7 linked regions of the Homo sapiens genome follow. The protein of the gene in region 1 interacts with the protein of each later gene in a pairwise test. Each region holds a gene or a part of one and is shown in the gene's direction. Other genes may lie near its edges. The genes, in order: DR1, FAM117B, JADE3, SEM1, SPATA22, LPIN1 and BAHD1.

Evidence for each region.
Region 2: the proteins of DR1 (region 1) and FAM117B interact in binary tests that used the Homo sapiens proteins (3 or more experiments, as listed by UniProt).
Region 3: the proteins of DR1 (region 1) and JADE3 interact in binary tests that used the Homo sapiens proteins (3 or more experiments, as listed by UniProt).
Region 4: the proteins of DR1 (region 1) and SEM1 interact in binary tests that used the Homo sapiens proteins (3 or more experiments, as listed by UniProt).
Region 5: the proteins of DR1 (region 1) and SPATA22 interact in binary tests that used the Homo sapiens proteins (3 or more experiments, as listed by UniProt).
Region 6: the proteins of DR1 (region 1) and LPIN1 interact in binary tests that used the Homo sapiens proteins (3 or more experiments, as listed by UniProt).
Region 7: the proteins of DR1 (region 1) and BAHD1 interact in binary tests that used the Homo sapiens proteins (3 or more experiments, as listed by UniProt).

What each region holds. Positions count from the first base shown.
Region 1 is NC_000001.11:93,355,380-93,359,547, forward strand, and holds part of DR1 (protein Dr1), read left to right. Parts: intron 1-4,168. UniProt on the Homo sapiens protein: The association of the DR1/DRAP1 heterodimer with TBP results in a functional repression of both activated and basal transcription of class II genes.
Region 2 is NC_000002.12:202,721,738-202,725,905, forward strand, and holds part of FAM117B (protein FAM117B), read left to right. Parts: intron 1-3,179; coding exon 3,180-3,272; intron 3,273-4,168.
Region 3 is NC_000023.11:47,058,045-47,061,873, forward strand, and holds the end of JADE3 (protein Jade-3), read left to right. Parts: intron 1-122; coding exon 123-1,033; 3' UTR 1,034-3,198; downstream 3,199-3,829. UniProt on the Homo sapiens protein: Scaffold subunit of some HBO1 complexes, which have a histone H4 acetyltransferase activity.
Region 4 is NC_000007.14:96,699,662-96,703,829, reverse strand, and holds part of SEM1 (26S proteasome complex subunit SEM1), read left to right. Parts: intron 1-4,168. UniProt on the Homo sapiens protein: Component of the 26S proteasome, a multiprotein complex involved in the ATP-dependent degradation of ubiquitinated proteins.
Region 5 is NC_000017.11:3,461,310-3,465,477, reverse strand, and holds part of SPATA22 (spermatogenesis-associated protein 22), read left to right. Parts: intron 1-2,710; coding exon 2,711-2,771; intron 2,772-2,899; coding exon 2,900-2,995; intron 2,996-4,168. UniProt on the Homo sapiens protein: Meiosis-specific protein required for homologous recombination in meiosis I.
Region 6 is NC_000002.12:11,752,851-11,757,018, forward strand, and holds part of LPIN1 (phosphatidate phosphatase LPIN1), read left to right. Parts: intron 1-2,896; exon of another isoform or gene 2,897-3,014; intron 3,015-4,168. UniProt on the Homo sapiens protein: Acts as a magnesium-dependent phosphatidate phosphatase enzyme which catalyzes the conversion of phosphatidic acid to diacylglycerol during triglyceride, phosphatidylcholine and phosphatidylethanolamine biosynthesis and therefore controls the metabolism of fatty acids at different levels.
Region 7 is NC_000015.10:40,446,928-40,451,095, forward strand, and holds part of BAHD1 (bromo adjacent homology domain-containing 1 protein), read left to right. Parts: intron 1-4,168.

The sequences.
Region 1 (4,168 bases):
TGTCATTATAGAGCTTAATCTACTGGGGAAGATTGAGTGGGAAAGATTGACTTAAATAAAACAGTAAGTTCAGAAAGTTAGGAAGTGTTGGAGTCTATATTTAAACTTAGGTATTTTGACCCAAAAGCCTGTACTGTTTCTAACATACCATGCTGATGCTCTAGCCTCCATTTTATATGCTTAAACTTATTATGGGGCTTTTAAATAGAATATGTATTATCCTTGCCAGGGCAAAATATAAAGAAATAATTGACTGCCTGCTATATCTGTCTTCACCTTTCTATCCCTATTATCTGTTTTTTTATTCCTCTTTTTTGTCTCCCTTGTTTCTTACCCTGACTTATGTATGAAGATCTCTAGTATTTCTTTACTATTGTGAGGATGACCAGCGGAGAGGTAATATTATAGCAGTTGCCTAGTACTTCTTCCCTAGAGCACTGAAGTTCTAAATATGAAAGAGTGGATAAGTAAATATATCTTTTTTATCACTTTCATTTTGTTTCATTTTTTAGACTTTAAATATTAACACAATGACAGCCTCATTTGAAGCTAGCAGCAAATATTTGGAAGGAGGGAACCTTTAATACATCAAGATTAAAGTTAACTTTAAATTATAAATGAGTCATTTTAATATGTGGGAGTGAGAATCTTAAAACATAATGAAAACCTCCAAAAGAAAAGTGAATTAGGAAATACATGCCTGCTTACCTGTCTTTCACACCCCAATTTTAGAAGAAAAATACTTGGGATGGATTGAGTAGGGGGCAAGAGAGAAAAAAATATATTACAGTAAATATCACTGAAAAATGTTCAATTTGTGGAAATGAATACAAATAAAATTTTATCAATCAACTTTTTTTTTTTTTTAAAGAGACAGGATCTCACCATGTTGCCCAGGCTGGAGCACAGTGGCTATTGACAGGCTCGATCAGGCACACTTCAGCCTAGAACTCCTGGGCTCAAGGGATCCTCCTGCTTCAGCCTCATGAGTAGCTGGGACTATAGATGTGCACTAGTGAGCCCAGCTCAACAGTTAGTTTTAAAGGCATAGAAATGTTTTTATGTTCAGAGAAAAGTATCAGCGCTGATACAGGGCCGTGGTAGCTAAAAGTCAATTAAATTTGAAATGTAACTAGTACACAGCTTTGCAGACCATTGAATAGACTACCAAATCAAGCACCTTTGCAGTAAAACCTTTGTAGAGACTTGAAATTATTTGAATTTTTTCCATGTCACAAAATTATACCAACTTGTAGTTGATTAGACCACAAAATATAGGTATGCTTATGTTGGTTGAATTTATGTATTTGATTTGCCCTGCAATTTTCTTATGAACTCTTACAATTTTTTTTTTTTTTTTGAGATGGAGTCTTGCTCTGTTGCCCAGGCTGGAGTGCAGTGGTGCTATCTCGGCTCATTGCAACCTCCGCCTCCCGGGTTCAAGCGATTCTCCTGCCTCAGCTTCCCAAGTAGCTGGGATTACAGGCATGCACCACCATGCCTGGCTAATTTTTGTATTTTTAGTAGAAACAGGGTTGCATCCTGCTGGCCAGGCTAGTCTCAAACTCCCAACCTCAGGCGATCCGCCCACCTTGGCCTCCCACAGTGCTGGGATTACAGGCATGAGCCACCGCGCCCGGCCTTAAAATGTTTTTAGCGAAGCTCTGTTAGTTGGTTTTGAACTCTGGATATTCCTGCCGTAAAAGTAAATATGCTATTGTGTTAGAATCAACTATTTTTCCTATTTCTTTACAAAAATGGATGACAGTCATTATTAGGGAGAATGGATGGTTTCTAATTTCCTAAGCAAAATGAAGTTTTTGTTTACTGTAAAAGTTGTCTTATCCTTGTTTTTTCTAATATCTATAGTCTTTTCCTTACTTATTTCTTCCTCTTTGCCTTTAACCATATACGGGTCTTCTGCATTTCCTTGTATCCCCCAAACCCTTTCATCTTTTGCTATAATGATCTGTGTTACCCACCAAGCAAGGTGGCACCTTCCTGTAGTCCCAGTTACTCGGGAGATGGAGGCAGGACAATCCCTTGAGGCTAGGAGTTCAAGGTTGCAGTGCATAACAACTATGCCTGTAAATAGCCACTGCACTTTAGTCTGGACAACATAGCAAGACCCCATCTCTAAAATAAATAAATAAATAAATAAATAATGATCAGTGCTACCATTTTTTGAAAATGTACAATCACTTATTCCTCAAATTTAACTTCTGTCCTACCACAGAGGCATTTAATCACCAAATTCAGTAATTTTTTTTCCTTTCAATTCTTACTCATCTGTTTTTTTAAAAATAACATTTAATGTAGACCTCTTCCTTTATTAGTCTCTGATACTATGGTTACTTGGATAGCTTTCCCCCAAGGTAATAGCTTTTCTTCTTCCACTTCACTACTGCCACCTACACCAGCACCACCCTACTCCTGCCCTTCAGTCAACAAATTTCAAGTCAGAATTCAATTAACATGTCCCTACTGTATGTAAGACATATGTGGTACTATAGATATAAAAAAAAATGAAGAATATATCATTATGAGACTGACTACTTGGATGAGGAAGATAACTATAATATGAGGCTGACCACTTATGAGAAAGAGATTCTGGCTGGGCATAGTGGCTCACACCTGTAATCATAGCACTTTAGGAGGCCCAGGTGGGAGAATCACTTGAGCCCAGGAGTTTGAGACCAACCTGGGCAATATAGTGAGACCCTCTCTCTACAAAAATAGAAAGAAAGAGGGAAGAAGGAAAGAGAAAGAAATCCCAAGTATGGAAACATTACATCAAATTTTAGGGGTACAGGAGTATGCCAACTAGTAAGCAATTATCTTAGCTCCAGACCCACCTTTCTATGCTCTGCTTTGTGACTGGACCTAGTACTCTGCAAGCCACATGTTTCTTTGCTAGCTGACTCTCCATTAGACTCTGTTGCCATATGGGGCTATCGTGGGAGATTGCATGGATGGAGGAAGAGAAAGGGTTTTCTCTTACTTTCTCTTGTCTTTCAGTTCCTTTGAACAACCCAGCAACACTTCTTCACCCTGGTTGCATCAGTTTTCCTGTAGCAGAGACTGAACGCGGTTTGCATTTTCTCTAATACACCACCAGCCTGAACCCGCACCCCATCCCCCCACTCTGGCAGTGTGGATCCCAACCCTTGGGGCCCTCCTCCAAGCGCAGATATATTAGTACTAGCTTATCTATGCCCATTCTTCCGAGGCCTGAGTTTCAGTTCCATGAAGTGGTTTCTTAAGCTTCTAAATTTTAAAAATTCCAGCATTTTCCTTTATTCCCTCAGTTTTAGGGTTGGTGGCTGCTTCCTGTAGCTGCTACTTTCATGACATCTTCATGTTCTCTTCCTGCCTTTTCAGCTCCCTAATAACAACTTTATACTTGTTTAACAATTCTTCGTATTAAATTTTTTCCATTCCAGTAACTCATGTGACATCTATCTCTTGATTATACACTGACTGATGCCAGGAGGAGAAAATAGTATTTCAGTTTGACTTGAAGGAAGGGTAGAATTTCAGTAAGTGGCAGGAAATTTCACATAGGATGAGTGTCAGCATGAGTAAAGGTAGCAAAGATGAGGAAGTATGGTGTATATTTGGGAAACATTTTGTGTTCTAGGCTTTTTTGAAGCACAAAGTACATGTTACAAAAAAAGACTATAGAGAGGTTGGGGTAGACACTAATTTGGAAGACCTTGAACTCTAGGCTAGGAAATTTGGATTTGATTGATAACAAATGATTTTTTTTAAAAAAATGAAATAGTGACCTGATTAGAATTTATATCTAGAAATGTTTGGATAATAAAGTCATGACAGATTATTCAGAAGAGTGAGGATTGTACATGGTAAAATCTTAAATGTTACTGGTTATGCTGGGCATCACTGTTTTCCTGTAGCATGTTCATTCAGAAAATACTGAGGGCCTTTATGTTAGGAATGCAACAAAGAATATGGAAACAATCTCTATTCTCAAGTGTGGTGGAAAAAAAGGATATAAACTTAGATAATTCTAGAACAAAGTGGATGGATATGGGAATGCATAGGGAATTATGGTATATTAAATAGAGCATAAAATATGGCTTGGAAAGGTCAAGAAAGACTAGCTGATTTGCATTTCAGATGATGACTAGGAATTAGCTATGCATAA
Region 2 (4,168 bases), on another chromosome or scaffold:
ATCCTCCCACCTCAGCCTTTCAAGTAGCTAGGACTACAGTCGTGAGTCATGAGGCCCAGCTAATTTTTTACATTTTTTTAGAGATGAGGTCTCCCTGTGTTCCCCAGGCTGGTCTTGAATTCCTGGGCTCAAGTGATCCTGTAGCCTTGGCCTCTCAAAGCACTGGGATTAGCCATGCATAAGCATGAGCCGCTGTGCCTGGCCTGACATTATTCTTATAAATGAGGAATTTAAAAATTCATATAAGAGAAGCATCTTGTAAAGATACAATTTTTTTTTTTTTTTTTTTTGGAGATGGAGCCTCTCACTGTCGCCCGGGCTAGAGTGCAGTGGCGAGATCTCAGCTCACTGCAACCTCCACCTCCCAAGTTCAAGCGATTCTCCTGCCTCAGCCTCCCAAGCAGCTGGGATTACACGTGCCTGCCACCACGCCCGGCTAATTTTTTGTACTTTTTGTAGAGACGGGGTTTCACTATGTTGGCCAGGCTGGTCTCAAACTTCTGACTTCGTGATCCACCCGCCTCGGCCTCCTGGGATTACAGGCATGAGCCACCACGCCTGGCCCAAAAAATGTTATTTAACTGATCTGAAACTTAAACATGTTTGTTTAACACCAACATATGTGATTCTGAACCACGCATACTATGCTGCTTATTCACAATAGCAACGACATGGAATCAACCTAAATGCCCATCAACAGTAGCCTGGATAAGGAAAATGTGGTGCATATACACCATGGACTACTGTGCAGCCATAAAAATAAACAAGATCATGTCCTTTGCAGGAACATGGATGGAGCTAGAGGCCATTATCCTTAGCAAACTAACACAGGAACAGAAAACCAAATACTGCATGTTCTCACTTATAAATGGGAGCTAAATAATGAGAACACATGGACACATAGAGGGGAAGAGCAGATTCTGGGGCCTTCTAGAGGGTGGAGGGTGGGAGGAGGGAGAGGATCAGGGAAAATAGCTAATGAGTACTAGGCTTAGTACCTGGGTGACGAAATAATCTGTACAACAAACCCCCATGACACGAGTTTACCTGTTTACCTATGTAACCAGTACATGTACCCTTGAACTTAAAAATTAAAAAAAAAAAATTCATTTGTTAAGGTTTTAAATTTTATAGTATTAAGTTTATTATTTTGATTTTGGTTTTTGATTTTGATACTTTATGCTATATGGTCCTATTTACATGTTGATCTTTGTGACAGGTATTTTAACAATGGACTTAAAGAGCCTGTGGATCCTAATATGAGAAATTATAAGTACAGTAGGGGTCACCTCTGGGATGTGTGACATCAGTTGGTAACCTCAAAGTGAAACTGGAGTTTAGGGTGAAATAGGGCATAGAGTGGTGGGAAGTTGACCAAATTGTAGCCCTTCCTTTTGATTCAGTGTATTTAAGGATCCTTGTCAGAATGGAGTCCTTTTGGCTATAAGGAGAAGATCCAGACCTGGGACATGACTAATTAGAATCACAGTGTCTTCATTTTTGAAAACTTTTCCTTCCCCATTTGAAACTAGACCATTTTATAATTAGTAATTGGTACGTTAATAGTGCAAAAGATATTCAAACTGCACAGTATTTTTTGGTATTTTTTATTATTTCATGTACAAAATTCAGAAGGTACAGAAGGGTATACACTAAGGGTCTTTTTCCCCAGAGACAGCCACTGGTACCAATTTTCTTTGTTACCATCTATTTTCTTCCAGATATAATTTACACACACATGCATTCTTTTTAGCAGTCCCATATAAAGGCAGTTGCTATACACACGGTACTGAGCCTTGAGGTTTTTCACTTAACAGTATATCATGGAGATTATTTCATGTCTGTATATTGTGAATTTCCTTATTCATTTTTATAGCTGCACAGTACTCTGTTATAAAGGTATACCATAATTTATTTAGCCAAACCTAAATAAATCTAACTTACTTACATTGTTTCAGTCTTACTTGTAAGAACAGTGCTACAGGGAATAATAGGCAAGTCATTTTGTACATAAAGATGTGCATTTGGTATCTGTGCAGGATAAATTGTTAAATAAGGGGTTGCTGTGTCAGTTTGCGCATTTATAACTTTGACAGCAGGTGCTGAATATCCCCCCATAAAGGCTGTATGCTCCCACTAACAATATAGGAGAGTTTATATTAGCAAATTGCTCAATCTTGTTGAAGCTTTAACTTTCATTTCCCTTCTTATCAGTGAGGTTGAGCATAGTTTCATGTGCTAGGAACTCATTTGTATTTTCTTTCCCAATACACTTTTTAAATTCTGGGTTTGGTATAACTACTTAAGGTTTAACTTTTTTTTTTTTTTTTTTTTTTTTGAGACGGAGCCTCCCTCTGTCATCCAGGCTGGAGTACGGTGGCACGATCTCGGCTCACTGCAATCTCCACCTCCCGGGTTCAAGCGATTCTCCTGCCTCAGCCTCCTGAGTAGCTGGGATTACAAGCACACGCTAATTTTTGTATTTTTAGTAGAGACAAGGTTTCACCATGCTGGTCAGGCTGTTCTCGAACTCCTGACCTCGTGGCCTGTCCGCCTTGGCCTCCCAAAGTGCTGGGATTACAGGCGTGAGCCACCGCGCCCAGCCAGGTTTAACATTTTTGAAGCTGTTCTCTGAAGATACTTATGGCAAGACTAGACATAATATAGAAGTTAATATTACAAGCTCTGGAGTCTCAGGTTTATTTCTTGGCTTTGCCGCTTGTAACACCTTAGGCAACTTACATGTGTTAAGTCAGATAAAGCATATGAAAGCACAGTGCCTAGCACATAAGAGCACAAGAATGTTAGCTATTATTAGTGTGCCTGGTGCGTGCTAATAATAACTGACATTATTAGCTATTATATGTTAGTTAACTATGGTAACTCTAGTTATTATATATAGTTAACTTTGTTCCATAAATGCTTTATTTGTAGTATAATTATAATTATGTAAAAATACTAATTTTTTATTAGCAATAAAAATGAAGTATGCCAAAATATTAATTGTAATTAATACCAGTTAAGTAACTGGTGCCAGGAGAATTTTGAGTAATTTGTGTTAATTATTTTTAATGTCTAATTTTTTTGTAATGGAAATATGTTTTATAATAGAAAAATATGGTAGACATTGTTGTGAAATGATTTTTGTTAAATACACCTCCCCTCTTTTTTCATTACAGACAGAGAGTGCATGGGCTGAAGAATACTCTGAAAAGAAGAAAGGGTCTCACAAGCGCTCAGCATCTTGGGGCAGTACAGATCAACTTAAGGAGGTCAGAAAAATGGTTCTAAGATAGTGGGTGTGGAAATATGATCCTTTTGTTGGCTATTTCCTTGATATTATGGGCAGCAAGGATTTGTCGTTTTCCATTGATTTCTTTTTTCTTTTTGGCTTCTGAAATAACAAAAACAATTATTGTGTTGATTTAATAAAGATTTCAATAGGGATATTTATATATCACTTACCTGATTATGTATGTTTGTCTTTTTTTAGGAGAATTCATACCTGTCTATTAACATCAGATTTAAAAATTGTAACAATACAACAAATTCACATTTATTCTTTTTTTTTTTTTTTTGGGGTGTGCATGTGTGTGTGTGAGACGGAGTCTCGCTCTGTTGCCCAGGCTGGAGTGCAGTGGTGCGATCTTGGCTCACTGCAGGCTCTGCCTCCCAGGCTCAAGCAATTCTCGTGCCTCAGCCTCCCAAGTACCTGGGACTGCAGGTGTATGCCATCATGGCCAGCTAATTTTTGTATTTTCAGTAGAGATGGGGTTTCATCATGTTGTCCAGGCTGGTCTCTAACTCCTGACCTCAAGCAGTCTGCCTGCCTTGGCCTCCCAAAGTGCTGGGATTACAGGCATGAGCCACCGCACCTGGCCACATTTATTATTTTTCTATATATGGTGGTGTTTCTGAAATGCAGTACTCACTATAACCATGATGGTTATGGCTCCATGCTATGATTACCATTTTCTGTGCTGCTAATTAGTGACATTTTCATTTCACACATAATGTAGAAATGCAAAAACTCGGTCAAAGAATAAATAAGATATTCATTGGAATTGCATTCGTTATTTAAAGATGATATCTGTGAATATATTTCATGACTTGAGTTGATTTTTAAATACTGTGTAATTTTTGGAACTGTTGAAAGCTAGGTGTTCAA
Region 3 (3,829 bases), on another chromosome or scaffold:
CATAGCAGAGCCAGGTGCTTGTTAAACATTTGGAAGAGTAGGTATGTGAACTCACTCTGCCATAAGCACAAAAGCCATTATTTAAATCGGTTGTTAAAACGAATCTTTCTTTTTTATCTCAGGGCTTCCTTTGACAAATGCACTTGAAAACTCACTGTTTTACCCACCACCAAGAATTACCTTGAAGTTAAAAATGCCCAAATCAACCCCAGAAGACCACAGAAACAGCTCCACAGAAACCGATCAGCAGCCCCACTCTCCTGACAGCAGCTCATCTGTTCACAGTATAAGGAACATGCAGGTGCCTCAGGAGTCACTAGAAATGAGAACAAAATCGTATCCGAGATACCCACTAGAGAGCAAGAATAACCGTTTGCTGGCCAGTCTCAGCCATTCTAGGAGTGAAGCAAAGGAGTCCAGTCCTGCTTGGAGAACCCCGTCCTCGGAGTGCTATCATGGGCAGTCACTGGGAAAGCCTCTGGTCCTTCAGGCTGCCCTCCATGGACAGTCTTCCATTGGGAATGGGAAAAGTCAGCCTAACTCCAAGTTTGCCAAATCCAATGGCCTGGAGGGCAGCTGGTCTGGGAATGTCACCCAAAAAGACAGCTCGAGTGAGATGTTCTGTGACCAGGAGCCTGTGTTCAGCCCCCACTTGGTCAGTCAGGGCAGCTTTAGAAAATCCACTGTAGAACACTTTAGTAGGTCCTTTAAAGAGACCACCAATAGGTGGGTGAAGAACACAGAGGACCTCCAGTGCTATGTGAAGCCAACCAAGAATATGAGCCCCAAGGAGCAGTTCTGGGGTAGACAGGTTCTCAGGCGGTCTGCAGGGAGAGCTCCATATCAGGAAAATGATGGCTATTGCCCAGATTTGGAGCTGAGTGATTCAGAGGCAGAAAGTGATGGGAATAAAGAAAAAGTCAGGGTAAGGAAAGATAGCTCAGACAGGGAAAATCCTCCCCATGACTCTAGACGGGATTGCCATGGTAAAAGCAAGACACATCCCCTTTCCCACAGTTCAATGCAAAGGTGATTAGAAACTTCCAAGGATGACCCAACCTTTGCCTTTGCCCCATATATTGGGGAAAACCCATACACCAAAAGGATTTTAGCATATGTTAAGAGGAATTGCAGTGAAAAGGATAACATTTTTCCATAGTAAATTGTCTTGCAGTTTTTGAAAATGTTTCAAGTCTAGTTTTTACAAGCACATTACAGTAATTGCAGGTTGTCCAGAGGTTGGTTTGTCAGAGGCTATTGGGAACAGCTGGGCCCAGGGTATTTGCTCAGTAAATATTTTGGGGCAGCTTTCCGGTTATATAACACATTGACAAGTATATGTATTAAGAGTCCTTGCATTGTTAACTGATTTGCAAGAGACCATGATTATCAGACACTAAAACTACTTATCTTTTGAAGCTACAGCATGTGACTCCCCAGAGCTCCTGTCTGTAGGAAGTTTCTAATTCCACTGGTATCTATAAACCCTTTTCAGGGGAGAGACCAGGAGACCACCATCTTAGATACTGTCAAACTCACTACTGTCTTCCTTTGTTCTGCACAAGGTTGAGTTTCTTTCACAGTATCTTAACTTACTGAGTCAATACTCCTCATGCTTATCAGTGTCCAGTGCCTGTTCCTAAACTTGCTTGTTGGGGACACACTCATAACTATTTCACCTGACTGACAAGCATAAAAGGCTAACTTGTGGATAGTGTTTACAAAAGTACAAAAGTACTACTTCCAAGGAAAATGCTCTGATTCTCTGTTTAGGCATTTGTGAAGGATTCCAGAGCCTTTCCCAAAGTGAGACCATTTCTGGGGTATTTGTACCAGGTCAGGGTTTTTGTGTTGTTTTCAAATAAGTTTGACTAAAATAAGTTTGGCTGACAGTTTTTGTATACCTGCTTTAATGTTTATAAAATTTTTATTGAGGTATAATTAAAATATAGTAAAATGCACAGAGGTTAAGTATTCTTACCTGCTTTAATTTTGAAACAGATTTTTATTGTCAAACAGAATTTGAAAGCATGTGTTTAACACATGGATATAATTTAGCTTTGTGTCACCTTTGAATCTGAGGCAGTTTCCCAAACAAAAAGGCTGGAGCCATTTTTCAGAAGTTGCTTATACCCTGTTCCCAAACTATCAGCCTTGATTAATTTCTAGTAGGAAGAGAATAATTACATTTGCGGGGGGGGGGGTGGATAAAAACATGTCTGCTTCTCATTTAAATAAGAGAGAAATGATGCCGTTTTTTAAATGTGAAGCAGACTATAATTCTCAGCTCTCTTTTCTTCTTAGCCTTAAATTAATATTCTCTTTCTTCTAGTTTTGGAAAGTGTAGTGGGAATATTCAGACAAAAGAGGCCATTTTCCATTTTTAAAGCTTCTTACTGGTGAAACAGCCCAGTTGTAGTAGGTGCCAGTCAGTCAAGGCAGGGGCCCTCTCTCCGTCAATATGGAAAACTCAGCAGTTTTCCTCTCCCCCAGTTGTGTTCTTGTAACGTTGTTAATGGGTTCCTTTGCTTTTTGCTTTCTCCTTTTCTGAAAATGTATGTGTTTTGCCTCTCTTTTGGCTACATCTTCAAAATATTTCTTTTGTGCCTATGTACATGTGTAAACATGCCATAGCATGTGTGGTAGGTGTCCTGTATTTTGTTTGGGAAAAAAACTATCAAAATGAGGAAGAGAATTTCCCCTATTTATGCACTAGGTTTCTGTGCTTTTTCTTTGAGTTCTCTGGAGTAGATATTAATTTGATACCTTCATGGTAATGAAATTATGATGGAGCTGTGTTATAAATTCCTTATGTCAGAGGCCAGTGCGGTAGCCTTTGTCCCTTCATGCCTTTCAATTCTGAGTGGGAGGAAAAGCAAACATCAAAACAGTGCTTCAGCCAAATTCCATATGTAATGCCATTGGGAGAGTATTGACTAAAATATCATTCGTCAGGGAAATATAGTTGTAATATTTTTACAGGATATTCCTAGGTAAATGAAGGAGCCTTCAGTTGTAAATTTCAATTACCCCAAAATGTATTTGCTACATTTTGTTGTTTGAAGTATTACCTCTTAACCTTCTTTGTTAATTTTTTTCATTTTGTCTTATATAGTCCAGTTTTCCAAGATAAGCTCAGTCCTTTTTCAAATGTCCCCTTTTTACCAATACTTTTTCATTAAATTATGAAAACTGCTACCTACTGTCAGTGTGTTTTTTATTTTGGCATATTGGTTACACATGTTCCTTTTATATTTAAAAAATTATATTCACTGAACAAAACAGATAGTGTGGGGAGAGGGAGGAGGAAGAGGAGGAATTGAATGTTTAGAAGCACACATTCAACATTCGAGTCAATACCGGGGACCCAGGAGAACTCTGGATACTTGAACTTTACCCAGAAATCATGATTTTATCAGACTGTTAAGATAAAGGCCTTAGGATCATCATAAAACATCACCAGAGAGATAGATCCTATCTAAAGTGACAAGATTGAAAAGGCTTCAGTCAGGCATCTCTATTTGGAGTCTTGTGAGTATGTTGATGTCATGGGGTTATGTGGTGTCAAGGGGGGCTTTTAGGCATTATAAACATTTTCATGATTGAAAAATGTACTTGCCAAAGGTCATTGGGTAAATCAGTAGTGAAGATAGGTAAAAGGTGAAGTTGGTTCTCTCTCTCTCTCTCTCTCTTTCTCTCTCTCTCTGCTAGAGAACTGAAACTACAGGTATACCCTGTTATAGCCAACAAAAGCTATTGAGTTTATACTAATGTGTACATTTCCAATGGGAGATGAATCTTTGTCCTTGTGTTGAAGCAACTTTAAATT
Region 4 (4,168 bases), on another chromosome or scaffold:
AGTACAGGCATGTGCCATCTCACCTAATTTGTTCTTTCAAATTTTTTGTGGAGATTTGGTCTCGTTATGTTGCCCAGGCTGGTACTGAACTAATGGCCTCAGCAGTCTTCCCATCAGTCTTCCCAGGTGCTGGGATTACAGGTGAGCCACTGCACCTGGCCTTTAAAAGAAAAAAAAAAAATGGAATATGCTGCAGTGAATAACCTTATAGCTTTAGGGTTTTTGTTGCTTGGGTTTTGTTGTTTTTTTTCTGTTACAGATAATGAATATGTTTACATCTTTTTGTGTGTGTGCTAATCTATAAGATAAACTCCTAGAGAAGAATTGCCAAATTGAATTGGCAGACTCATTTTTTATAATATAATTTTTATTTTGAAATAATCTCAAACTTACAGAATAGTTGAAAGTACAGTACAAACATTTTTCTCTAAACCATTTGTGAATAAGTTGCCAACCTGATGGCCATCACTCCTGAGTATTTTAATGTGTATTTCCTACAAGGACATAGTCACAAGACAACCATCAAAATCAGGAAATTAACGCACTGATGCATTACTATAGGTTGAGCATCCCAAATCTGAAATCCTCCGGAATCTCAAACTTTCTGAGTACCAACATGAAATTTCAGATTAGGGGATTTGGGATGCCCAGTTGTAAATATATAATGCAAGTATTTCAAAATTCAAAAAAATACAAAATTTGAAACACTTCTGGTCTCAAGCATTTTGAATAAGGGATACTCAACCTGTATGATCTAACCCACAGATCACTTTCAGCTTTCTCCCATTGTCTCAATAATGTCTTACTATAGAGTCCTGGATTACATTATCTTGTCCTGTCTCTTTAGTCTTCCTTAGTCTAGAGCATTTCCTGTTTGTCTTTAACTTTAATGATTTTCACACTTTAGAAGACTACAGGCCAGATATTTTGTAGAATGTTCCTCACCTGTGCCTATTTCCTCATGATAGAAGTTCTACATTGTAGTCCTGGTGCTCTGTTCTAATGACATCTTTTTAGGTGGAACATTATTCTCATTTGTTCCATTACTGGGGATGTTCACTTCAATCACTATTAAGGTGGTGTTTGTTAGGCCTTTCCATTGTTAGGTTACTAATTTTCCCTTCCTAATAGGCAGTTTTGGGGGAGGGACTTTGAAACTATGTAAATACAGTATTCCAGTGATCATCAAACTTGTAACTTGTTCATCTTTTAAAAAATGTATAGCAGTGTGGACTAGTGGATTCTGACTCAGTAGGTTATAATTTGTAACTATTATTTGGATTCTCAGATTGTCCCATATTTGAACATGCAGAACTCCTTCAGGCTGTCTTCTGTGTCCTTTTGCCATGTCTCCATTATTCTTTGTGCATTTCCTAGCATTCTGGCACAAGGTGTATTCCAAACTAATTTTATATGTGAAATCAGCCGTTGCTCCAATGTGATTTCTTTTTAGTGGAGAATGGTATTTAGAATGCAGGGTCTTCACTTTGCTTATGTTTATTGCATTTGGGATATTCCTGCTCCCAGACCCTCTAAGTGGAAGGAACTAGGGATGTACAGGAGTGTGTGTGTGTGTGTATGTATAAAACCATGGGTTCACACAGATGTCTCCAATTGCAGTTCAACACCACTGGATTCATTCTAGTTTTTTCCCTTTCTACATTTGTTATTCCCTTCTCCAATAGTGAGAAACCTGGCTTCCATTATCTTCAATGTATTGTCTATTTGGTCATCCCCCTTCCTAACCAATCTTTGCTGCCCCCAACAGGTGCCCTTCTTGCCCAACTTGGGCTCCACATTTTATGCCAGGCCACCCTCCCATCCTCTAGTGTGGGTGACTTCGTTCTGTCCAGGCTCTGACACACCAGCCACACCATGCTGCCCCTCTCCAGGAATGCCCTCCTTGCTCTACTTGGGCTTAGACACCTCATCTTAGACCTGGCATATCTTAAATTTTGACAGATACTCTCAAATTGCCTTTGAGAAGGGTTATGCCAATTTATGTTTTCATCTACAGTTCACCTTTTCCCTCATAAGCTTGCTACACTAGATAGTAAACATGTTAGTCATTACTGACCTCATGAATGAAAAATAAAATTGTATCATTTTGATTTGGATTGATTTTTTTAAGTAAGATTAACCATTATGTTTTTCTCTGAGCTGTTACCATCTTAATCCTCAATTTCATTATCTGTAATATATGGCTAATAATATTTATTAGAGTCATGAAAGAATTACATTATTGTAATGGTTGGCCTGGGCTACCATAACAAAATAGCATAGACTGGGTGGCTTAAACATCAGAGATTTATTTTCTCACCCATTCTGGAGGCTGTGGAGTCCAAGATTAAAGTGTAGGTCGATACAGTTCTTGGTGAGGCCACTCTTCCTGCCTTGCACAAGGCTGCCTTTGTGCTGTGTTCTCTTGTGGCAGAATGAAAGAGTGCATGCTCTCTGGTGTCTCTTAAGGCACTAATCCCATCATGGGAGCCCTACCCGCAAGACCTCATTCAATCCTGATTACCTCCCGAATACCATCATATTGAGGATGAGGGCTTCAACATAAGAATTTTTGGGGGGGTTTTGGGGGGCCAGGGTACAAAGATTTAGTCCAGAACAATGATACATATGTAAACAGAGTCTGGCACAAAGTTGGTATTCAGTAAACATTAGTCTCCTTTTTTCTCTCCCCTCTAATGTACTTAGGAGTTTGGATTTTGGATGATGTTTAATATTTATTTAGAATTTGAGCTGTGTCTGACATGTATTTAGTAATTTTGAATATATTCAAAATTAAGCTTGTTAAATTTGTGAATTATTTGATAATTGATTTATTTTGCAGTATTAGAAACTTGTAAATTTAAAAAAATTGCCATTAAATGTTTTTCCACAAGTACTTAATAATGTGGTTATTCATAGAAAGACACATAAAATAGTAACATACATTATTTAGGGGTATATACAGATTGGAATGAAAAACCCCCAAATCAAGATGCTGGTGCTTGGGAAGGGATAGTGAGAGGTGTGAACCAGGATATTAAACACTGAAAAACTCTTTGAAAAACTATTTGGTTAGCTATTTCATTGGTTCTATGGAATGAGCAAGCAGTAAGCAATTGTGGTTTAAGTAGTGTTTAATGTTACTACTTGTTTGTTAAACATTACTCATTGAAAGATGTGATGAACTGCGAAAACATTGAGAGGAAAATAAGTTTCAAAAACTGTATACAGTTGACCCTTTAACAACATGGTTTGAAGTGTGAGGGTCCATTTATACACAGATTTTTTTCAACTAAATGGGAAAAGGAAGTACGATATTCACAGGATATGGAACCCACCTGTAGAGAGGGCTGACTACCACTTGGCTAACCATGGGACCTGAATATACATAGATTTGGGTATACTTGGGCTGTCCTGGAACAAGTACCCCGAGTATACCGAGGGATGAGTGTACTCTTCTTCATAAGTATTTAAAATTTACCAAATATCCTTAATCCTTTGTCTGGTTGTGTACTCTGGTGTACATGTAATGTTTGGTGGAAATTGTATTGTTTATATTCTAGGACATGTTTCTCTACTCACCTCTCTCATCCCACAAATTGCCTTTCCAGTGATTAGCATGTATGTAATAAAGGATTTATTCATTTGACATGTATTTGTTGAGTGTTTCCTATAAATCTGGTACTGAAAAGTACAGAGAGAATGGTATTAGCTGCCATTTATCAGTACTAAGTGCTTTACATACACAGTGTCATTGAGTCTTCATAGCTCTTTGAGGTATAAGTTTTATACCTAGGGATCAGAAAAATTTAATTTACCCAAGGTCACAGTTAATTAGAGGCTGTCTTGAAGCAAATTTGACTTCTATAGATATTTGTCTTTGAACTTAGTAAGTAGTAGTTAAGGGAGAGAAGAATCAGTGGTTTTAACACCAAGCTAGAGTGCTTTAGTATTTTGGAAGTGTTTATCCTGGGGTGGGACTCAAAGCCCTTTTCTCCCTACCACCAATTAAACCATAGCAACATTGCCTTTGTTTCTCTTACCTGTTGGGCTTCTGAGTAAGATGTAATTTGGTTTCCTTCAACTGATAGTAAAGTGCAACAGCAGTTCAAAAGAAACAGATTACTTCCAGTTATGTACAGTGCGAGGTAGCAACCTTTGAACAGGG
Region 5 (4,168 bases), on another chromosome or scaffold:
TAAGGTCACAGATCAACAGGATCCCAAGGCAGAAGAATTTTTCTTAGTACAGAACAAAATGAAAAGTCTCCCATGTCTACTTCTTTCTACACTGACACGGCAACCATCCGATTTCTCAATCTTTTCCCCACCTTTCCCCGCTTTCTATTCCACAAAACCGCCATTGTCATCATGGCCCGTTCTCAATGAGCTGTTGGGCACACCTCCCAGACGGGGTGGTGGCCGGGCAGAGGGGCTCCTCACTTCCCAGTAGGGGCGGCCGGGCAGAGGCGCCCCTCACCTCCTGGACGAGGCGGCTGGCCGGGCGGGGGGCTGACCCCCCCACCTCCCTCCCGGACGGGGTGGCTGCCGGGCGGAGACGCTCCTCACTTCCCAGACGGGGTGGCTGCCGGGTGGAGGGGCTGACCCCCCACCTCCCTCCCGGACGGGGCGGCTGGCCGGGCTGGGGGCTGACCCCCCCACCTCCCTCCCGGACGGAGCGGCTGGCCGGGCAGAGGGGCTCCTCACTTCCCAGTAGGGGCGGCTGGGCAGAGGCGCCCCTCACCTCCCAGACCGGGCGGCTGGCCGGGTGGGGGGCTGACCCCCCCCCACCCCCCTCCCAGACGGGGTGGCTGCCGGGCGGAGACGCTCCTCACTTCCCAGACGGGGTGGCTGCCGGGCGGAGGGGCTCCTCACTTCTCAGACGGGGCGGCTGCCGGGCGGAGGGGCTCCTCACTTCTCAGACGGGGCGGTTGCCGGGCGGAGGGTCTCCTCCCTTCTCAGATGGGGCGGCTGGGCAGAGACGCTCCTCACCTCCCAGACGGGGTCGCGGCCGGGCAGAGGCGCTCCTCACATCCCAGATGGGGCGGCGGGGCAAAGGTGCTCCCCACATCTCAGACGATGGGCGGCCCGGCAGAGACGCTCCTCACTTCCTAGATGGGATGGCGGCCGGGAAGAGGCGCTTCTCACTTCCTAGATGGGACGGCGGCCGGGCAGAGACACTCCTCACTTTCCAGACTGGGCAGCCAGGCAGAGGGGCTCCTCACATCCCAGACGATGGGCGGCCAGGCAGAGACGCTCCTCACTTCCCAGACGGGGTGGCGGCCGGGCAGAGGCTGCACTCTGGGCACTTTGGGAGGCCAAGGCAGGCGGCTGGGAGGTGGAGGTTGTAGCGAGCCGAGATCACGCCACTGCACTCCAGCCTGGGCACCATTGAGCACTGAGTGAACCAGACACCGTCTGCAATCCCGGCACCTCCGGAGGCCGAGGCTGGCGGATCACTCGCGGTTAGGAGCTGGAGACCAGCCCGGCCAACACAGCGAAACCCGTCTCCACCAAAAAAATACGAAAACCAGTCAGGCGTGGCGGCGCGCGCCTGCAATCGCAGGCACTCGGCAGGGTGAGGCAGGAGAATCAGGCAGGGAGGTTGCAGTGAGCCGAGATGGCAGCAGTACAGTCCAGCTTCGGCTTGGCATGAGAGGGAGACCGTGGAAACAGAGGGAGAGGGAGACCGTGGGGAGAGGGAGAGGGAGAGGCAGAGGGAGAGGCAGAGGGAGAGGGAGAGGGAGAGGGAGAGGGAGAGGGAGAGGATCAGTGTTTTTTTAAAATGTTTGTCTTGATCCATTAATCAGTCTGAGGTATAATCGATCTTTGAAAAAAGAAATAGAAGAGAATAGAGTAGAATAGAAAATACAGCCATGCACTGCATAACCATGTTTTGGTCAATCACACCACCTGTGTGATGGTGGTGCCATTACAAATATAATGGAGCTGAAACATTTCTGTCTCCTGGTGACATAGTAGCTGTCATAATGTCATAGCACAGTTTATTTTTTTTTATAAATGTAGCCTAAATGTATGGTGTGTTTAGTGTACAGTAGTGTATACAGTAATGTCCTAGGCCTTCGTATTCACTCACCACTTAATCACTAACTCACCCAAAGCAACTTTCAGTCCTGCAAGCTCCATTTATGGTAAGTGCCCTCTTAGGTGTATTGGTTTTTATCTTTTATATTATATTTTTACTGTACCTTTTCTATGTTTAGATATGTTTAGATACACAAATACTATTATGTTACAATTGCCTGTGGTATTGAGTACAGTAACATGTTGCACAAGTTTGTAGCCTAGGAACAATAGGCTGTAACATATAGCCTAGGTGTGTAGCAAGCTGTACTCTCCAGCTTTGTGTAAGTACACTCTATGTTGTTTGCACAACAAACTCACCTAACAATGCATTTCTTAGACTGTATCCCTGTCATTAAGTGACACATGACTGTGTCAGTGTGTATCACACATATTAAGGATAAGATTTGATGAAGTTTTATATTCTTTTTTCTCCTCTCTATCTCTGTCTCACACATATATCATGCATGTATATGTTCTGAGTTATGATGTATTTCTTTCTGTGGGTGAGATTTTAAAAGTTCAGTAAACATTGGATTAGATGAAATTCATGTTACAAAGTTAAAGATACTATACTAGAACTGATTGTAGAAAAGATACAGATTAAATTATCTTTGCTTAAAATACAATGGATAAGAAAGACATCTATAAAAATTAATAAAGCAGGCTGTGACAGGTTTTCCAACAAGTACTGTTGAAGAAATCCATATATTCAAGTTTTTTCTTCTTCAAGTTTTTAAACCCTCCAAATTAAATAAGTATGAATTTATCATTTTGAAAAATACTACCTATCTTACTTTTATCTATGTTACTTATATCTTTTGAGATTGGGCCTGGGAAGCTGTGAATCCAGAGTTGGCTCCTGTAATGAAAACAGTGGACACCGGGTATGTGGAGAAATATAAACCATTGGATGTGTGTCTGTTACTAACTGATGTTGTTCTTCTACGTATATCTTAATTTCTCAATTTGAAAGCAAACTATTAATATTTAACAAGACATATTCCCTTGAAAGGCAAATACCACATTCAGTTTCTCGTCCTCTGAGAAGTCAAGATTCTGTCTTTAACTCTATTCAATCAAATACTGGAAGAAGCCAGGGTGGTTGGAGGTGAGTCTACTTAAAATTTCTTTCTTCTTCTATTCCTTCTCATTTTCCTGTCTTCCTCTTCATTCTTCCCTCCTCCTTCACTTCGTTGTTTCTCAGACAGAATTACATTTAGGAAATTTCTATAAATAACAACTATGGCAGTATTAATTATGTTTTATGAAAGAGCTTAAGAGAACATGCATGTAAAACTTAAAAAATATGTAAATTTCACAGTGATTATGCTTCAAAAGATTCTTAATATGACAATGAAATTTCTGCCAATATTCATTGCTATGAATTTATGATTTTGCTTATGGGTTATTAATGATTTAATTGACAATAGACAGGAATCATATCTTAGTATTGATTATATTTAGGACTTGAGAACCAATTAGAGTGCTCAGTCTTATCCTGTAAGACAGCCGGCTTCAAGGTAAACGGAATGGCAGAAGAAAGAAAAATGGAGGCTGTGATGCATATGCATCTGCAATAGTAGGGGCTCAAGAAATGAAGAAGCTGGTCAAAAAGATGGTGAGGGTTCTTGCCATAAGGACCAAAGCTTAATGTTTAAATAGTATGAAAAAATTGATAGAAAAAGAACATGGATTTCTCTTGGTTGGATTTTAGTAGCCTTGGATAAATGGCAATATAGAAGGAAATGATTTTGGAAACAAAGTGCTGGGAAAACAACACCAAATCAGTCACTGTTAAGTGCTTTGATATGTTATTTCAATAATCCTTACAACAACCATATGAAGTTAATACTATTCTCATTTTTATTATATAAAGATATCGTATTTTTTTAAAAGGGGGAACTTTTTATATAGTTGTTAATAAATACATTGAAATAATATCTTTATTTAAAAATTAGTTTTGATTTTATTATTCATGCTAGTTTCCCCAGGACCAGTCTGTCAGTTTCTTCATAACAAGGCCTTAAAACTAGGCCTGTTCAGTGGTTTGGGATGGTTCTTAGAGACATTGTTCCAACTGCAGGAGCTAGAAGAAAATCCATTCTGACAAGCATTAGACAGATAATTAGGTAAACAGATTGTAATCTGGACAGGCAGCCAGTATTGGATATTACAATTTGAATTAATACATGAGCTGTCAGACTGTTGGAATACAACAGGAAATCCAGGAGTACAGAACATTTAAAAATCCATGCAGGCAGTTGGTAATCTGCTGAAGATC
Region 6 (4,168 bases), on another chromosome or scaffold:
TCTTGGCAATTTGTGAAGCCTGGAGATGGATTCTGCCAATTTTGGAATAAATGTGGAATTTTCTAATTTAATCGTGAGGCAAGAAACCATGTGACCTCTGTCACCTCATCCTGACAGTGTCCGCAGTGCTGTCCTTTCTGGAACTGTATGAAATTGCGGTCGTGAATGCTTTGGAGCGTCTGCTGTGTGCTGGAGTTCTACAGATGAGCTTAATTATGGGAACGCCCTCCTGTCCCTGGGCAAGGAGGGGGATGAGCAGGGTGGGGGTGTGCTGGAGGAGGAGACGCCTGCCACTTTGCCACCCTGGAAGCTCACTGCAAGAGCTGCAAAATTTCCCACCTGCCTAACACAGGCAGGGCTTTGGTGGCGGGACCCCAGGGCTGGCTGTTTTTGCTCTTTCATCACTTTTGTCAGGAAGTATTGAAAGACCTTTAAAAGGCCTCTGACTTGCAGGGCCTCTGACCTGCAGGCCTTTTAAAGCATCTCCAGCTTTTCTAGTGAGTTTTTGTATTTTGGACGGGAATGTCTCACGAACCCTGGCATGCCAAGAAAGTCCCCAATTTCCCAGCAGGTAGTGATGGATGCAGAGCTGTGCTCTTCTGTTTAAGAAGCTCCTCAAGGCACTCTGGCCAGGACAGTTTAACCACAGGGACGCTGGTGGACTCAGTCAATCCAGACCTGGCAGAGGGCAGCAGCTGCCTATAAGTGTGTGCCAGTTACAGCAGGGCGTGGGCTGCTGCCCAGGTGGCCTGACTTTCTGTCTGTGTTCCTTTCCCTGTATCACCCTGAGTCTGAGCCAGACTTCCTCTTTTGTCACAGGTAATTCATCACCCTTATCAACCGCCGTTAAGTATCAGTCCACAATGCTCTGAAAAGACTTCCTCTTTGCCGTAAGTGTAAATTACAGGAGGAAGCTAACACTATTTATAAATCAATTTCATTTTCATGCAAGTCTTATTAGTCATGATACCATTTTGGGCACTTCCTAGAAGCTTTTTGTGTTTTTAAATGCTTTGGATGAAAATCCTCATTTGTCTTGTAAACCTCCAAGGTGGATGTGATCTCGGCGAACACCAGTAACAGCGTGATGTTTGTGACTTTATCCAGTGCTGGGCGGACCACAGATAGAGTCCCCAGGTGCTGAGACACTGACTGTAGTGTGCTCAGAGGAGGGCGGCTAGGGCAGTGAGCAGGAAGCCCCAAAATCGTCCCTGTCAAGCCCAGCTGGGGAGCCGACAGTGCCTTCCCTAGAGGAAGGGTGCCAGGGGTGGTCATTTAGTTGTCCTGACATGATCCGTTGGCCCCACGAGCAGCAGCCAGGTCTGTATCTGAGAGCTGTAATTTCCTGCTGATAACAGGAACACAGATAAGGGGCACCCCATCCCAGAGTGATATTAGGTTGGCTTTTGAATCACCAGGCTCCTTGGATGTGCCTTAAGCCCACAGGTGCCCTTTAAGCACCTGCCGTGAGGGCAGATGTGACAGATCGTGTTTGCTCTCTGGGCAGTGAGTGGGTTTTGGGTAGCTTCTCTCCAGGAAATGATGAATCACTCGGAGCTGAGCAAGTGCCAGAGAAGTCTTCAATCACAGACTGAACCCAGGAGGGTGTTTCGGCCTTTCTAAGTCCTTAAGGGTTGTAGGGAAGGTTTTGAACAATGGCTTTTGACTTTACCTTCTGAGAGGCTCTGTCAGGGAGTGGTGATGCTGCGGGTGAGAGCAGTTTTGAAGGTGTCACATCCAGGGCCAACCCTGAGCCTTGCTTCTGTAGCCACCTCCTATGGGAGGTCATGACAATAATAAGATTTTGCATGTGTTGTCCAGGAGCAAAGACCTTTCCAAACTAGTCGTTGTGTTGACCACTGAGGATGACAGCCTGGTGGGCTCAGTCAGAGCCATTGTGTTAATACCCTGCTCCCACACACATAGCTGGTAAATGCCAGAAGTTAACACTCACAGCCAGGCCTTCCGACCCCCAATTTTGTGTCATTTCTGCTTTTCAGTCTTACCCTTAGGTGTCACAGCTGTTTATTTAAACTGTTTGCAGTGAATTTTGTTTGGGAGCATTGTCTTGTGAAATTTATGCTCTGGCAGAGAACAATTCCTGCTGTCTTCTTCATTTCTTCTAATTTTTTTTTTTTTTTTTGAGACGGAGTCACCCAGGCTGGAGTGCAGTGGCACGATCTCGGCTCACTGCAAGCTCTGCCTCCCGGGTTCACGCCATTCTCCTGCCTCAGCCTCCCAAGTAGCTGGGACTACAGGCGCCCGCCACCATGCCCGGCTAATCTTTTTTGTATTTTTAGCAGAGACGGGGTTTCACCATGTTAGCCAGGATGGTCTCGATCTCCTGACCTCGTGATCCGCCCGCCTCAGCCTCCCAAAGTGCTGGGATTACAGGCATGAGCCACCGCGCCCGGCCATTTCTTCTCATTTTTAAATTTTAGTGCTTTTCCCCCTCGTGCCCCGACTTGCCAAGCTACTTTGAGGGTGGTGGGTGCATCTTGCTGTTTTACACTCTGGAATGTCGTGATGGGACCAAAAATAAAAGTTTCTTGCTTGAGATGGGCCCTGCGATGGGGCAGGTACCGCGTCAGAAATGAGCAAGCCTCGTCCCTGTCCTCAAGGAGAGAAGACTCACTTGGTAGACAGATGTCTGTTCAGCCACTTGACAAATGACAGTAATATTGATCAAGCTACTGCCCTGGATGGCTGGGCTGGAGGGCTGAGGAGAAGGTTGAGGCTGAAAGATAGAGTTGTGTGGGCATGTTTATGAAGGGGTCATATACCTGGACAGCCGGGGGAGGAAATGGAGGAGGCAGGTGGAAATCCAGATTTGAGGGGTAATTATTGTTCAACTCCTGCAAGACACTTAGTTCTTTTTTTTTTTTTTTTGAGACAGAGTCTCGCTCTGTCGCCCAAGCTGGAGTTCAGTGGCGCCGTCTCGGCTCACTGCAAGCTGCGCCTCCTGGGTTCAAGCGACTCTCCTGCCTCAGCCTCCTGAGTAGCTGGGACTACAGGTGCGTGCCACTGTGCCTGGCTTATTTTTTGTATTTTTAGTAGAGACGTGGTTTCACCGTGTTAGCCAGGATGATCTCGGTCTCCTGACCTCATGATCTGCCCGCCTTGGCCTCCCAAAGTGCTGGGATCACAGGCATAAGCCACCACGCCTGGCCACTTAGTTCTTAAAGAAAGGAGAGTAGGAAGAAAAGTACAAGTGAGAAAGATGAACAAAAACGGGGATTGTAAGAGTACATTTATTGAGACAGTTTTGCATTTGCATTTGCTCGGCCAGTCTTATATATAATTAGATGTTGCTTACCATGACATCATTTCATTTCCAAGGAGCAAACCCACAATGTGAAAATGGACCCACTGTTATGTCCCAGATAACGTGCCTTAGGTAATGTTCTAGTTGAAGGAACTAGAAAGGGAATTAAAATCATTGTTATTTACTTGCATAATAAATGAGTGGAACAGCAGATTCCTGAATTGTCCATTAAGAGGCGTGGACTAAAATAATTCAAATCCCTTTATTTATTTATTTATTTTATATTTTTTTGAGATGGAGTCTCACTCTGTCGCCCAGGCTGGAGTACAATGACGTGATCTCAGCCCATTGCAACCTCTGCCTCCTGGGTTCAAGCAATTCTCCTGCCTCAGCCTCTCGAGTAGCTGGGATTACAGGCACTCACCATCATGCTAATTTTTGTATTTCTGTAGAGATGGGGTATTTTGTAGAGAGCCTGACCATGTTGGCCAGGCTGGTCTCGAATTCCTGACCTCAGGTGATCCGCCCTCCTTGGCCTACCAAAGTGCTGGCATTATAGGCGTGAGTGCCCGGCCCCTATATTTATTTTTAATAATCGATGCTGTTCGAGTTGAGTATGCTATTTATTATTAATGTCATAGGTAGAATTCTAAGTGGAATACGCTTGTAGATTTTTATGTTCTTTGGTGTATTATCTGTTTGGTTCTAACATAAAACAGTTTCTAACCCAGAGGTATCTGGAAAGATGGTATTCCAGTGGGATGTAATAACCTCAGAAAATTTGTATTATTTCAGAAGGTCAAGCTAGACGATGTCACATTGAAAAAACTTACATGTTTCTTAACCTTAGAGCTTTTCTGAAAATCCACAGTTAGAGAAACCCAGTCTTGCCAAAGGATATTT
Region 7 (4,168 bases), on another chromosome or scaffold:
TCAGCTTCCTGCGTGCAGTGGAGAGGGGCAGCCCACACAGACCCTTTTCCAACTCTGGTTACCTGTCCACAATGTTTAGGAATAATTGTTAATCACATTCTCATGTGGCCAGGTGGTTTAAAGGTGAATTACTGTTTTTTAGAGGACCTATGTAGAAATCGTGGGAAAGGTATTATTAGGGTGCCGCTTGATGCCAGGAGATCCTAACAAGTATGCCAGAAGGAGGGGTGAAGTCACGTTTCCACCATAGTCAGGGCCAGCAGGGCCTTCCTCAGTAGTGAGGGGTGTCTCCTGCTTTGTGCCTGGAGGGGTTTCCACATTGGCTAGAATGTAAAAAAGAATTATAAAAATGATTGAGGCCAGGTGCCGTGGCTCACACCTTTAATCCCAGCACTTTGGGAGGCTGAGGCGGGTGGATCACTTGAGGTCAGGAGTTCAAGACCACCCTGGCCAACATGCTGAAACCCCGTCTCTACTAAAAATACAAAAATGAGCCGGGTCTGGTAGCATACACCTGTAATTCCAGCTACTCAGGAGGCTGAGACAGGAGAATTGTTTGAACCCAGGAGACAGAGGTTGCAGATCGCGCCAGTGCACTCCAGTCTGGGCGACAGAGCAAGACTCTGTCTCCAGAATAAATAAATAAATAAATAAATAAATAAATAAATAAATAAATAAATAAATAAAAATAAAAATGATTGAATAACTGAGAGATGATTTCCAGAGAAATTGAAAGGACTTGAATTTATTTGGCCCAGAGGGAGGTAGACAAGGGGCAGTTAATATGTCTTTGCATGTTAAGATGACAGTTTAGAGCATGATGACCAGTTTTTAGTCTTCATTGCAGTCTGGGCTGGAGGCAGGGAATTTCACCTGAGACAAGAGGTATTGGGTAGATGCATGGTTGGGGGTTACCTTTTTCTGGATTTACTATAAAATCAGGACAACGTATCTTTGAAGCTCTCTCATTTATTCATTTATTTATTTAGCCCAGACTTCTTAGCATGTCACCCTTTTCTAGGATATAAAATGTTTGTTTCGGCCAGGTGCGGTGGCTCACGCCTATAATCCCAGCACTTTGGGAGGCAGGCGGATCACGAGGTCAGGAGATCGAGACCATCCTGGCCAACATGGTGAAACCCTGTCTCTACTAAAAATACAAAAATTAGCCGGGCATGGTGGTATGCGCCTGTAGTCCCAGCAACTCAGGAGGCTGAGGCAGGAGAATCGCTTGAACCTGGGAGGTGGAGGTTGCAGTGAGCCGAGATTGCGCCACTGCACTCTAGCCTGGATGACAGAGCAAGACTCCATCTCAAAAAAAAAAAAAAGTTTCTTTCAAAAAAAATTTTTTTAATTGTATTTACGTTCTAGCCCATAGATGCCATTTAATTGGAGTACATCTTCAGTTCCTCTGTGGTGGGAAAACTAATAATGTGTGGTAATGCCAATAATTAAAGCACAGAAAAATAAAACTGAACGTGCAAGTTATCTTGCATCTTGGTCTGTGATCCAGCAGCCATCCTGTGATGCCCTAAGTAGAGGCAGTGTGTTGCAGTGCAGGAAGTGTGGGCCTTGGTGTAGATGCCAGGATGGCTCACCTCTGTCCTCAATCCTAGCAACTTTTTATTTTTTAAGAGCCAGCTCTGTCACCGAGTCCAGAGTACAATGGCATGATCATGGTTCATTACAGCTTCCACCTACCGGGCTCAAGTGATCCTCCCACCTCAGCCTCCTAAGTAGCTGGGACTACAGGCACACACCACCATGCCCGACTAATTTTTTATTTTTGTAGAGACAGGGTCTCACTGTATTGCCCAGGCTGGTCTTTTAACTCCTGGCCTCCCACAGCACAGGAATTCTAGGTTACAGGTGTGAGCCACCACGCCCACCCAGCATCTCCTTTTAACTCTTTTTTTTTTTTTTTTTGAGACGGAGGTTCACTCTTGTTGCCCAGGCTGGAGTGCAGTGGTGTGATCTCGGCTCATCGCAACCTCTGCCTTCCAGGTAGCTGGGATTACAGGTATGTGCCACCACGCCCAGCTAATTTTTGTATTTTTAGTAGAGACGGCTAATTTTTGTATTTTCTCCATGTTGGTCAGGCTGGCCTTGAACTCCCAACCTCAGGTGATCCACCCACCTCGGCCTCCCAAAGTGCTGGGATTACAGGCGTGAGCCACCGCGCCCAGCCTTCCTTTTAACTCTTTGTACCTGTTTTTTTTCCTTGTTAGGATGAAATGGTAACAACTAGCTCATAAGGCTGTTGGGAAGATAAATGAGATAGTGAATGTAGTGTGCTTAGGACCTTGCCAGGTGCATAGTGAGTGCTTGACAAACATTGACCATCCTTTTACAGTAGTCACCTCTGCAGTGAATCAGAAATTTCCAACCCTGCACACTTAGGGTGTCTGGGGACTGATAATGCTAACTTTAGTTCTTTGCTCCTGATTTCACCTATCTGTGACATTCTTTGTCTTGATACAAGTGTCTGTAGTACTACATTCACTTGCTTAATGGTTTAGGGGCAGCCACAGCCAGTGGAATGCTTTCCAGAGGTAGCTGGGCAACTTGGGAGAGAGAAGGAGGAGGATGAGGCCAGGCATGGTGACTCATGCCTGTAATCCCAGCACTTTGGGATGCTGAAATGGGAGGATCACTTGAGGCTAGGACTTTGAGACCAGCCTGGGCAACATAGTGAGACCTTGTCTCTACAAAAATAAAAATAAATTTAAAAATTAGCCAGGCATGGTGGTGTAGGCCTGTAGTCCCAACTACTCGGGAGGCTGAGGTAGGAGGATTGTTTGAGCCCAGGAATTCGAGGCTACAGTGAGCTATAATTGTGCCACTGCCCTACTACTGCAGCCTGGGTGACAGAGCAAGACCCTGTCTCAAAAAAAAAAAAAAAAAAGAAAATGAAAATTGATGGTAATGAAGGAGGGTTGTGCCATGAAAATACAAGAGATTTCCTATTGTAACCTTGTTGCACTGTGGATTAAATTGAAGATGCACAGTGGACTCCTGGGGATGGAGGAGAGTTTGGAGGTCAGAGGGCTCTTGTCTTGAGCTCCAAGTGGTGCTCTAAGTCTAGGATAAAGATTTTACACAGGGTGGGGCAGGTGGACAGCCAGATCTTCATTTATTCTTACCAAGCTCTTATTAAGTCATGTGGGTGGGATTTACTGTTAAGGAAGGCAGAGCCTACCTGTCCCCATAGGGCTGGCATCCTATTGGAGGTGGCACTAGCCACTTAACTAGTTAAGTGAGTGATATTTGGGTAGGGTGCCCATAACTCTGATACGATCTGCCTTGCGATTCTGCTCCTGCTAGTGGAGTGTGGGGGAGGCCTGGTCTTGGATCTTGTTCCTCACAGCTGGTTCATTCAGGAGGTTAGTGCTCTGCTGAGGAGGCTGGAGGCAGAGCTCCATCTTGGCCTGGCTGGCTAGTTTCTGTTCAGGACTAGAGCTAGCACCTGTAGTCTTGGCAAGCCATTTTAGAAATCTAAGTTGTTGGTCCATGTAATGTCCTGGTGGTTGAACCAACACTCGTTCTTTGCCATTCCTGGGCAGGTGCTTGGAGAAGGCTGGTGAGCTGTTCATGTTTTTTGAAGAATGGTGCATCAGTAGCACAAGGTTTTCCCTGGTTCTGCTGAGGCCTGTTGCTGAGCTTTGGGGTGCCCTGTCCCCTGTTTTATTCCTGTTTTATTTCTCCCACATTGTTAGCTGCTCAGAGCAAATGGGTTTTGCTGCAGGTGTAGGTTTGCCTCTGGCTGATCCTGGGCAGTATGGCATCTGGATGGGAGGGTCTGAGGGAGCCTTAGCCCAGAGTTAAGGGGTGCCCCCCAACCCCTGCCTGGAGTCATCCTACATGGAGCTAATAGGGGCGAGTCTGGGAAAAGTTGCATTTGTTTCCTGCTTTAAGACTTTAGCTTTTGGGCCGGGCTCAGTGGCTCACATTTGTAATCCTAACACTTTGGGAATCCGAGGCAGGCAGATCCCTTGAGGTCAGGAGTTTGAGACCAGCCTGGCCAACATGGTGAAAACCCGTCTCTGCTAAAAATACAAAAATTAGCTGGGCGTGGTGGTGGGTGACTGTAATCCCAGCTACTCGGGATACTCCTGCTGAGGCAGGAGAATCACTTGAACCCAGGAGGCGGAGGTTGCAGTGAGCCGAG